Homo sapiens: one gene and its partners. The protein of the gene in region 2 purifies or fractionates together with the protein of the main gene of each other region. This does not show direct contact. Each region holds a gene or a part of one and is shown on either strand. Other genes may lie near its edges. The genes, in order: NTPCR, ROS1 and HS3ST6.

Region 1 (3,651 bases), on a different chromosome or scaffold from region 2:
ATAGTTACCGTTGCTCCATTTTATCTTTTTCAAAATATAAACGGCAATTTTTGTTAGGATAAGAGTAAGACCCATTCAGTATAAGAATTAAAAAAAACAAGAAAAGTTTAAGGAAGAAAGTGACAATCACAGGGAATTTGAACATCAGAAATCAACATTGTAAATCTTTGTTCTGTATTCTTCTTGACATTTTTTTTTTCTGTAGACACGTACTTGACCATTCTTTAAAAAAAACATAATGGAATGGTTTCTGCTATTAACCTGCTTTTTCCATATATTATTTTCATACATTGTGGTCTATTTTCCATGCTAATAAATACATATAAGCAGTATATTTTTTAATGGTTGCATGGTATTTCTGTGTATTTATGTGCTATTATATACATGGTGCCATGAGTTAACATTCCCTTACAATCAACATTTAGGTTGTTTTCAGTGTTTTGCTATTATAAAGAATGTTGCAGTGAATGTCCTCTTTCACACATTTGTATTGTTGATGTTTCCTGAGGATGAATTCCTAGTCATGAACTACAGGGTGCTGTGGCAGGCGCATTGAAATTGCCCTTCAGAAAAGAAGTAGCAGCTTACACATTCGGCAATGCCATTACTTGCATGAAACAGATTCTTTAGTGACTTTCCTAAAGCAGTTGTTACTGATGGCCAGGGCTGGATTAGAATGTCATCATTTTATGTTCTACACAGTTCTACCAGCTGCATGCTCACTGTGGCTTACTGTAGCCAGAATCCTGTTGTGTTGCTGTTCATGTTCCAGAAAGCCAGGTGCCATTATTTTAATGTGAAGTGTGAAGATAGATACATTAAATAAGAATAATGGATCATATTTTATGTCAAGGAGGCTTAAAAGAGTGGGTAGTCTTAGAAATAGCATGATTTGCAACTCTGTAGTATCTCAAAATAGCTCACTTGCAGACATGCTAGGAGTTTTCTCTCTCTTTCCATTGTTGGGTAGTCATGATGCCACTTACTTAAATCCATATTGGGAACAAGGCTCATATTTTAAAAAGTCATGGTGACAGGTAAAGTCCCCTGTTGAAAGGTATGGACCTTATGAGGGGTATAGCCTTGGGTAAAATACCTAACCACCATGTACCTCAGTTTCTCCATCTGTAAAATATGCATAAGGATGGTAATTGCCTCAGAGGATGGTTGTGAGGACTTAACCAAGAAAATGCTTCCAAAGTGTGCTAGAACAGTGTCTGGCTCCATGACGTCAGTGATGAGTATTACTATATTAGGTAGCACCTGTTGGTGCTTACAAACCAGTGAGTTCATCAGAGTAGTCAGCTGACCAGGCTGGATGGACAGGAAGGATCAAGGTGGGGAGGCTGAGGGGGCAGAGGTACATAGGTTCAAACTGGGGAAGGTGTGGGGGATAAAGGTGAAGAAATGCTTAGAGACCCTGGAGAAGATGATGTTGGAAGGAGTTGCTAACCTGATAGGCTTGCTGTTATGAAAAAGTTTGAAAGTGACCATTAACAGGGATGCTAATGATATTTAAGAGACACATTTTCAGGAGTTACAACAATGTAAGTCAAAGGAGGAACAAAGTGATTTTCCCACTGTTAAGTGTAGGTCCGTTTGTAATCTCTTGAAAGCTGAAATCTTAAATTCCCAGCCCCTGACTCAAGTGTGACCAGTGTTACTTCCTGGGCAGAAAAATGGGAACTGTAAACCATTTCACAGGATGCAAATGGCATGGGAGAATATCATCAGGAACCTCTCAGTTGATTCTGGGATTGTGTACGTGACAAAATTAACAATGTTTCACAATTTAAAAATAAACCTCAAGATATCATTCGTGTTTTTATTATGCTTGTTTCTACTTGAAATTAAGCATTTTTAGCACCTGGAGCAATCAAAATTAAATTGAAGTTCATATTCATAAATCCATTTACAGCCCATTTCTCTACCCACCATAATTGCTGCCTCAGAGTCCACAAGTGCTGTGTGTGCTCTAGTAAGGGAATGTTTCCTAATGGGCTTTTCTTCTTTTTTTTTTTTTTTTTTTATTTTAGGAGTTGGAAAAACAACATTGATCCATAAAGCCAGTGAGGTTTTAAAATCCTCTGGTGTGCCTGTTGATGGATTTTATACCGAAGAAGTCAGACAGGGAGGGAGAAGAATAGGATTCGATGTCGTCACGTTGTCCGGCACCCGGGGGCCTTTATCGAGAGTTGGGTACTGATATTTCATTTCTGTGGTGTTCTATTATCTAAGCTCCCCTTCCATCTGTGCTTTGGGAGCTTTTCAACAAGAGCTAAATTCACCAAAAGCAGATACTCTGTTGGGTCCTTGGATGCCCATCTGCTTTCCCTTTAGGTTGAGAGTGTCTCCCTGGGCACAGGGTTGAGCCAAATGTTGTCATCTATCCTCAAGAATCTTAGGCCTTTAGGGATTTCTCAGAGAAAGAAAACAGAATGAAACCATCACATGAAAAAAGTATAAGAAAGTGATATTTTACTTAAAACTTGTTCACCAAGTCATAAACTCCTCTCACTTTATAATTCTTAGTCCTGTTTCTGGTGCCACTTTTCAAAGACTGTTGATGCAGTAGCTGCTTGGACCTTAAGAGATAGCCCTGCCATAACTGCAAGGCCCATTGTTGGAGGTGTGGACACTTTGAACAGGGTAGCTCTGTTCAAAGCAGAGAAAACCTGATCAGCTTTACAGACCACCGCATTTTGTGTTGGTCATTTTTAAGGATGATTTAGCATATGTGGAATGCCAGAGGCTCAGTGGAGCAGCTAAAAACCAGAAATCAATACAGGAGTTTTTCAACAAAGAACATAATGTCTTTTCCTTCAGGTTAGAGCCTCCACCTGGAAAACGTGAATGCCGAGTTGGGCAGTATGTGGTCGACCTGACTTCTTTTGAGCAGTTGGCACTACCCGTCTTGAGGAATGTGAGTACGTGATTTCTGCTTTTTGAACCCATCTGCTCTTAGTGTATTGTGGGAATTGCTAGCCATGGAAACAGAATGCCTTTTGCTCTTAAAGGCCCCAGTTTTGCATTTTACAATTGAAAAGATTGAGTCTTAATAAGGATAAACAACATAATTTGCTATCACTCTGAGCTACAGATAAATTCCTATAAATTCAGTACATATAAATATTTTATTTTGGAAAGGCTCTTGATGCCCAGGTACCAACATTCCCAAAGATAAGTCTTTCCTCTGTCTTCTCACAGTCATGTCTTAACCTGGTTTCACAGCACAACAAACATTTAGGAAGAGAAAATGTCATTATATGAACATAATAGCCAGTTGTTATTGAATGCCTACCAAGTACTGTAAGCAGTTAACGTATTATATTATTATATTACCTTTTTTAAAAAAGAAAAAAACTTTATTGACATCTTACGGCTTCTTTCTTTCTACTTTGAATGCCTTTTATTTCATTTGCTTGCCTAATTACCCTGGCTAGAACCTCCAGTCCAACATTGAATAAAAGTGGTGAGAGTAGACATCCTTATCTTATTCCTAATCTTAGAAAGAAAGTATTTAGTCTTTCACCATTATGTATGATGTTAACTGTGTCTTATTTGTATAGAGTTTACTCAGGCGTATTTTGTTGAGGATTTCTGCATCTTTATTCACAAAAGATATGGTCTGTAGCTTTCTTTTCTTGGGAT
Region 2 (3,651 bases):
TTTTCTTTAATTTGAAGCATGAGTGAGGATTCCTTTAAACTCCGTTCCCTAACCGGTTATATTTGTAGGAAAAGAAGAAGGATGATTATTGGCTTTTGTTTTTAGATAATAAACATTTAGACAGTAAGAATTCTATCTGTTAGATGAATTTTGCAACCGAGTGCTTAATAGTACTGTGTTTTCATGATTTTGTTCAAAAGTTGGTTGAATCGCAAGCAAATAAAAATCAGGTGAGAGATAATGAGTTGAAAATTGAATCTTTTCCTACCCCTTCAAAAATGCATGTTAACTCATAAAAGCAAAAGGGTGGATGCTGGGTAGTCTTTGTGTTCCATTTTAAACAGTAGGAGAGCAGAGATATTTCTTGATGATCATAGTCACACTGTAACGGTAGTGAGTCCTGATGGCTCTTCTCAGGAGTAAATTTAACGGGCTGAGTGAAATGACCATCAAATGGTCTTGGGCAGGGTAGCCTCACAGTCAGGTCTAAGGGTTTCTAATGAGGCAGATTTTGTCAACACTCTTCCCTAATCTCCACTCATTCCCCATTCTTCTCCTCACAATTACAATAGCTAACATTTATTGAATTATTGCTATGTTTCAGGCACTCTTATAGGTGTTTTACACTAAATCTCATTGAATCATCTCAGCAACCCTATAAGGTAGCTGCTATAATTAACCTCATTTTACAGCTGGGGCACAGGGAAGTTTAGTAAATTACCTGGATTAGGATTTGAAGGGGGCAGAGTGATTGACTCCAGAACCTGTGCTCTTAACCGGATGCCTTCCATAATCTCCACCAAAATCACATTTTTCATTTTGAACATTAGGATCCCCGCTGGTTTGCCTTAGCTCCAACTACGCCAATTATCTGCTTCCAGTAGTCAAATTCAGTCCCAGATCTCAAACTTTCTTAACCTAATACCCACTTCTTGACATAAGCTTTTCTATTCTGCCCACCTCAGGCAGAACTAATCTCATTCTTTACTTCCTACCCTAATAAATGTTGTGGGGTGGGGGGAGGGGGGAGGGATAGCATTAGGAGATATACCTAATGCTAAATGACGAGTTAATGGGTGCAGCACACCAACATGGCACAAGTATACATATGTAACAAAACTGAACATTGTGCACATGTACCCTAAAACTTAAAGTATAATAATAATAAAATTTTAAATAATAATAATAATAATAATAATAAATGGAACAGAGCAGAATGATCTGTATTTTAATTCCACATGATATTTGCTCCCAATGTGATATTCTCAAAGTTACCTGTGCCATCTAAACTTAGTGGTCGTATCCGGGACATAAGTAGGATAATACTTAATTCATAAGCTTCTGTGAAGATTCAATTAAATGCAATAATTATTATAGTGCAGTGCAGGCACTTAGAAATGTATTAGTAGTATTATGTCCCAACTTGCTGTTAACAGCCTTTTGCATACATATCTTTGGTTAGTTAAACAATAATATCCTCAGATAAATTTGATGCATAAATTAGAGGTATATTTTCTCTTTCAATTTTGAGATTTAATAACGCATTCTTTTCTAGAAATTTATCCATTTACATCCAACCAACAATTCATGAAAATAGAAGTTTACCTGTACCTTTTCCCAACTATAAATGTTTTTATCTTTGCCAATTTGATAGAAGAAAAATTGATAATTTATTTTTATTCTGCAATTCTGTGGTTGCTGTGAGGTTGAATATCTATCACATGCTTTTTAGCCATTTTTATAATATATATTATATATTATATTGGAATATATGAATTGGAATACATATTATATTGGAATTATATATATTATATTGCAATATATATATATATAGGAAATATATATATATTTCCAATACCTTTTGGGGTACAAGTGGTTTTTGGTTACATGGATAAATTATATAGTGGTGAAGTCTGAGATCTTAGTGCACCTTTCACCCAAGTAGTATACATTGTACCCAACATGTAGTTTTTCATCCCTCACTCCTCTCCTTCCCTCCCCCTTCTGAGTCTCCAAAGTCCATTATACCACTCTGCATGCTTTTGTGTACCCATAGCTTAGCTACCACTTATAAGTGAGAACATACGGTATTTGGTTTTCTATTCCTGGCCAAATAATGGCCTCCATAGAATAATGGCCTCCAGCTCCATCCAAGTTGCTGCAAAGACATTATTTCATTCCTTTTTATGGCTGAGTAGTATTCCATGGTGTATATATATCACATTTTTTTATCCACTCATCAGTTGATGGACACTTATACTTCTTTTTTGAAGTGGCTGTTTATATTCTAAATTCATCTTACATGCTTTTATGTGTATCAGGGATTTTTTCTTTAAAAACATTATTTATCATGTGTAATACTTTTTTTCCACTTTTTGGCTTTGCAGTTATTGTATACTGTTGTCATAACAGTTTAAGTTTCTAAGTAGTCAAATTTATTGATAATTTCTTTTTAGGGAGTCTAAATTTTTTAATTAGGCTTCTTAAGGCATTTCTACTTCAAGATTACAGAAACAGTCACCCCAATTTCTTCTAATATTTTTATGAAGTAAACACTTGCTTTGTTTTGTTTATTTGTCTGTTTGCATTTAAGTAAACCTTTCTGTTTTTGTTTCTTAGAAACAGAGTCACCCAGGCTGGAGCACAGTGGTGTAATCACAGCTGACAGCATCCTCGACCTCCCTGCTCAATCAATCCTCCCACCTCAGCCTCCTAAGTAGCTGGGACTACAGGTGCATGCCACCACGCCTAGCTAATTTTTGTATTTGTTGTAGAGACAGGAGTCTCACCATGTTGCCCAGGCTGGTCTCAAACTCCTGGGCTGAAGGGAACTGTCCGCCTCAGCCTCCCATAGTGCTGGAATTACAGGCATGAGCCATCGCACTTAACCAAAAGTCATACCTTTTTACAAAATATATCCTGAAATTTATTTGAATCTGGCAGTTATGTAGGAATTTTTTATGCTACATGGATAGCAACTCATTGGTTTGAATTGTCATCTTTATCATATTTCACATTCTTTATGTACATGGTTTTATTTCTTGATTGTATTCTGTTTTACTCACAGGTTTATTCCTGTAGCAATAAAAACTATGCTAATTTGTAAATATTTTATAAAATTTCTGAATTATGATCTTATTATATTATTTTGTTTTAATGTTATATATTGATATACAAGACAATTTTTCATGTCTGTACATTAATTTTTTAAAAATCTTCCAAATCCTATTATTTCTAATAGTCTTTCAGTTGATTTTCAGTTTATTTCTTTGGAACTTAAGATACAAATCAAAAATAAATGTATTGTCATCACCCTCTAATATTATAAAAGCACATCATGTTTGTAACAGCCTTTAACTGTCTAGTGATAGAAACCTTGATATCTCAGTATTTGATAACTTACTTTAGGGCATTGATTACATAATTCACTTCTTTTGTATTCCGAATTGCATCCACCACAGAGCTGAATATACATAGATACCTAGGAAAATTTATTGAATGGAATCCATTCAATAAATTGATATTGAATGAAATTTATTGAATGGAATTGATACTCCTGAGCCCTTCTCAATATTAGTTCCTCAGTTGTTGTGATTTGTTAATTCAAAAAAAAAAGGGGGTTTGTGATGTAATTCAGGAATGGAAAACCAA
Region 3 (3,751 bases), on a different chromosome or scaffold from region 2:
AGTTGGTCCAAGGGACAATACCAGATTAATGAGGCAGAAGCCACGGGACTGACCCCTTGGAATTCTCCACACCCACCCCTCCCCCTTCTAAAAAATGAGGACGTCAAGAATCTACCAGAGCAGTCACTCTCCTGTACCCCCCTCCAACCCTGGGCACGTCAGTGTCCCCGGAACCCCACCCCCAGGCTAAGGAGCTGACTCCCAAGTTGGGCCTGGCCTTGGCTGCCTCTCATCCTCCCCAAACTGATCCCCCAGCGCTGGACACATGCCCAGGGCGGGCCTGGACTGGCCTCAGGAGCCTGGGCTCTTCCAGAACCCTTTAGGGCTAAACCCAACCCTAGCTTCCCCTGTGGCTCCTCACGGCCCAGCTCAGATCCCACCCCCAGTCTCTTGCTGTCAAAGCTCATGGGGCTCAGGGGTGGCTCTGAAGTGTTTACTCCAGTTAACTGTGCATCCTTAACCCAAAGCCCTTTCTCCCCTTCCCCCTCCCGCCTCTCCCCTCCTCCCCCGTCTCGCCACTCCCCTCCTCCCCAGCTTCTAGCTTGGTAGCCCCTCCTACCCTCCTCCCTGCAGCAGGGATTAGGGATGCATTCTGACCCCTGCCTGCCGTCAGGGGAGTGAGGTCTCTCCCTGGAGCCTGAGCTGAGGATGCCCAATTCAGCCAGGTGAGCCCCGGGATGGACTCCATGTCCCCTAGCCACCACCTGACTTCCCCAGCACCCCACACTGGCACCAGCCCTTCAGATCTCAGAAGCGAGCCACCCTATTCTCACGGAGCCCCTTCCTGCCTGCCCTCCAAACCCAAGAGTAGTTTTAGTACAAAAGGCAAAGTTAACAAATAGGGGTAGGCGTCAGGGAAGGAAGAGGATCAGAGGATCGGGAACGGAGAAACTGGAGCACCTGGAGAAGCGTCTGGGTCCTGCCACCCCCACTGACTCCCCAACTGGCCTTGGGCAGGGTCCTCTCTGCAGGCGCTGGGTCCAAGCTTGGGGATGAGCAGCCACCAGCGCGGGCTGCTTCAGCTGAGGCTGCCGCACCCCCACGTCCATCCTGGGTAGAGGCAGGACAGCCACAGAGCCCCATGCACGGGGCTGGACTCACCCTGGGCACTCACCTAAAGGCAGTCTCCTCCTTTCCAAAGCCCAGACTTTCTCCGGACTCCCAGGACCACCAACAAGGGTTCCTGTGCGCAGACTCGGGGGTCTTGGGGAGGAAGGACGCTTTCTAGGTGGCTGCCTGGAACCTGGAGGCCCCTTTCTACAGTACCTGGCCAGCGGTCGGTCACACCTGAGTGCCCAGAGTGAGCGGGCGGCAGAGGCATTTCTGACGCTGCCAGGTAATCCCACGGGCTGGAAACGACCTCTGGGCTGGGAAGCCACCGCCTCCCCCAGTCCTGCTGGGTCCCTCAGCAGAGAGAACGGAACCGGGGCTTTCCCCACAGTTTTCAAAGTTTCAGGGAATCCTAGCCAAGTATCATTCCTTCTTCCGGAGCCGGGACCCCAGGTCAAGCCTGGGGCCCCCACAGGGCGGTCCCAACCCCACTGCCCGGAGCGCACCCCTGCTCCCTGGGAGGCAGGATATCGTGCCGCTGCTCCCTGGGGCGCACGATACCCTCCCCAGGAAGGCGCCGGTCAGGGCGGACGGGCCAGGGTGCTCACCGGTACCAGGCGAGGCCGCGCTCGTAGCACCTGTCGAAGAAGTGGGGCTCAGAGCCCAGCGCGCGGACGTCGGGGTGCAGCCGCAGAAACTCCAGCAGGGCGCGCGTGCCGCCCTTCTTCACGCCAACGATGAGCGCTTGCGGGAAGCGCCGGCGGCCGGGACCGCTGGCCAAAGGCAGGCCGGGTGCTCCCGGGCGGTGGACGGAGCTGGACGGCTCGGAGGGCGCGGGGGCCGGCGCGGGGGCGCGGGCGGCCGGCGGGCAGCGGCCGGGGAGGGCGCAGAGGCAGTAGGCGCCGAGCACCAGGGCCACGAGCAGCATCGGCGCGCGGGACGCCCGCAGAGCGGCCCCTTGCCCGGCCCCTGCGCCCTGGCCGCCCCCGGCCCCGCCGCCCAGGCCGCCGCTACCTGCCATGGGGTCGCGCCGCTCCAGGCCCGGGAGCGGGGGCAGCAGGCGGGCGCGCATCTCGGCCCGCGCGCCGCTCAGTCCGTGGGTGCCCGGCTTGTGCTCTGCGCCCGGCGGTCCCGCAGCCTGGGAGCGGGCGCGGGGCGGGACCGGGGGCGGGGTCTGGACGCCCTCCCCCCTCCCCCTCCCCCGCCCACTCCGCCTCCGAGGCCACTGCCTGGGCTGGACCCGCCGGCAGCCGCCACCACCCGGGCGCGACTCGAGCTGCCGGGACCACCAGGACGCTCCTGCTCCGAGATCCCAGGCCCTGGCTCGCTTGACTCCGGCATCTTCACCTCTGCGCGGGGAGGATGCGGCGGCGGTGGCCGTTCGGGACGCAGGGCAGGGACAGGGCGGCGCGCGGGCCTCGGGACCCTCTGTTTGAAGACCGATCCCCTTCCCCCCCCACCCCACTCCGGGACGTGCGCGGCAGGTGCATAGGCCAAGCCTTGGCCTGCAGGAGCGGGAGCCTCATCGCCAGGCCAAGGGGACCCAGGAAAAGCGTCGATCCGGGCACTCGGCCTGCCAAGGGAGAAAGAGGCCGGGACAGCACCCTAGTGTGCAGAGAGGGATCCCAGAACGTGTGGGGGGAGTCTGCGGCCGGGAATGGCGTGCGTCCTGCACTCCCAGCTGACAGTCACACATCGGGTCACAGCCTGGCCGCTGAGAGGTCAAGTCACCTCTGGTTACTGTTTTAGAATGGAGGGGACAGGCTCAGAGAAAATAGGTTTCCCTCCCAGGGGCCCAGTGGTGAACTGAATTCAGGCCTGAGACATACTCTGTCTACTAAGTCACCCCATCTGCCCAGCCTTGGTCCACCTGGCACTGCCCAGAGACATCAGTGATGCATTTCGGAAGCTGGCAAAGTGGACCCCACTGGAGTACAAAGGACTCAGGGACCCCTGTGCTGGGGAAGAGAAGGAGCCCAGGACCTCCCCCAGGGGCTGCCTCTGAGGGGCGTGAGATTCAGGGGCCTCTCGGGTGGGACCTGCGGGGGCCGCTAGACACTGCGGGAACTTCACATCCCCAACGCCCAGCAGCAGCCTGCAGGGAAGGCAGGGGAGGCGAGCCGGGCTCAGAGAGGGCGAGCAACTTGCCCCATCCGAAGGCAAAGGTGGTATGAGACCCGGGTCCTCTCTCCACCTCTGCCCCAGCCTTCCTGGCCACAGGGCTGGCGCCAGGCAGGCACGGCACAGGCTCCCGGCAGAGGCCCAGCCTCTTCCCAGCCAAGGGCTTGCGGCCCCTGTCCTGGGCTCTGCTGCGTTAATGAGCCGTTCCAGCCCTGATGGCATCTGGACAAGTCCCAGCAGCCGGGCTGCCTCAAGGGGCCGAAGGCCTCCACGACCCACAGACATTCCGGAGCTCCTACCCAGCAGCAGCCCTGGCCAGAGGGGGCCACACGGGGCTGACGGGGTGAAGACCACTGACCAGTCCCCCAGCCCCGGCTCCAGACATGCGGGCTGCACCTGCTCATCTGGGCAAGCCTCTGCAGGAGCCCCGTGGGCAGGCAGCGGGCACAATGCGAGGAGAGCATGCTGGCTTATGCTGGGTCACAGGAAATTCTTCTTCTGGTCTAGCTTGAAACGGTATTGTTCCCAACGGGCTGGCTCGGGGTGGGGGCTGGGGTCCCACCCTGCAGCATCCACCCCA

The links.
Region 1: the proteins of ROS1 (region 2) and NTPCR purify together in Homo sapiens (affinity purification with mass spectrometry; one large-scale study listed by BioGRID and IntAct). This does not show direct contact.
Region 3: the proteins of ROS1 (region 2) and HS3ST6 purify together in Homo sapiens (affinity purification with mass spectrometry; one large-scale study listed by BioGRID and IntAct). This does not show direct contact.

The regions. Positions count from the first base shown.
Region 1 is NC_000001.11:232,953,521-232,957,171, forward strand, and holds part of NTPCR (cancer-related nucleoside-triphosphatase), read left to right. Parts: intron 1-2,036; coding exon 2,037-2,199; intron 2,200-2,826; coding exon 2,827-2,923; coding exon of another isoform or gene 2,924-2,927; intron 2,928-3,651. UniProt on the Homo sapiens protein: Has nucleotide phosphatase activity towards ATP, GTP, CTP, TTP and UTP. Hydrolyzes nucleoside diphosphates with lower efficiency.
Region 2 is NC_000006.12:117,419,421-117,423,071, forward strand, and holds part of ROS1 (proto-oncogene tyrosine-protein kinase ROS isoform 3 precursor), read right to left. Parts: intron 1-3,651. UniProt on the Homo sapiens protein: Receptor tyrosine kinase (RTK) that plays a role in epithelial cell differentiation and regionalization of the proximal epididymal epithelium. NELL2 is an endogenous ligand for ROS1.
Region 3 is NC_000016.10:1,916,253-1,920,003, forward strand, and holds the start of HS3ST6 (heparan sulfate glucosamine 3-O-sulfotransferase 6), read right to left. Parts: upstream 2,164-3,751; 5' UTR 2,072-2,163; coding exon 1,659-2,071; intron 1,227-1,658; exon of another isoform or gene 1,115-1,226; intron 1-1,114. UniProt on the Homo sapiens protein: Sulfotransferase that utilizes 3'-phospho-5'-adenylyl sulfate (PAPS) to catalyze the transfer of a sulfo group to heparan sulfate.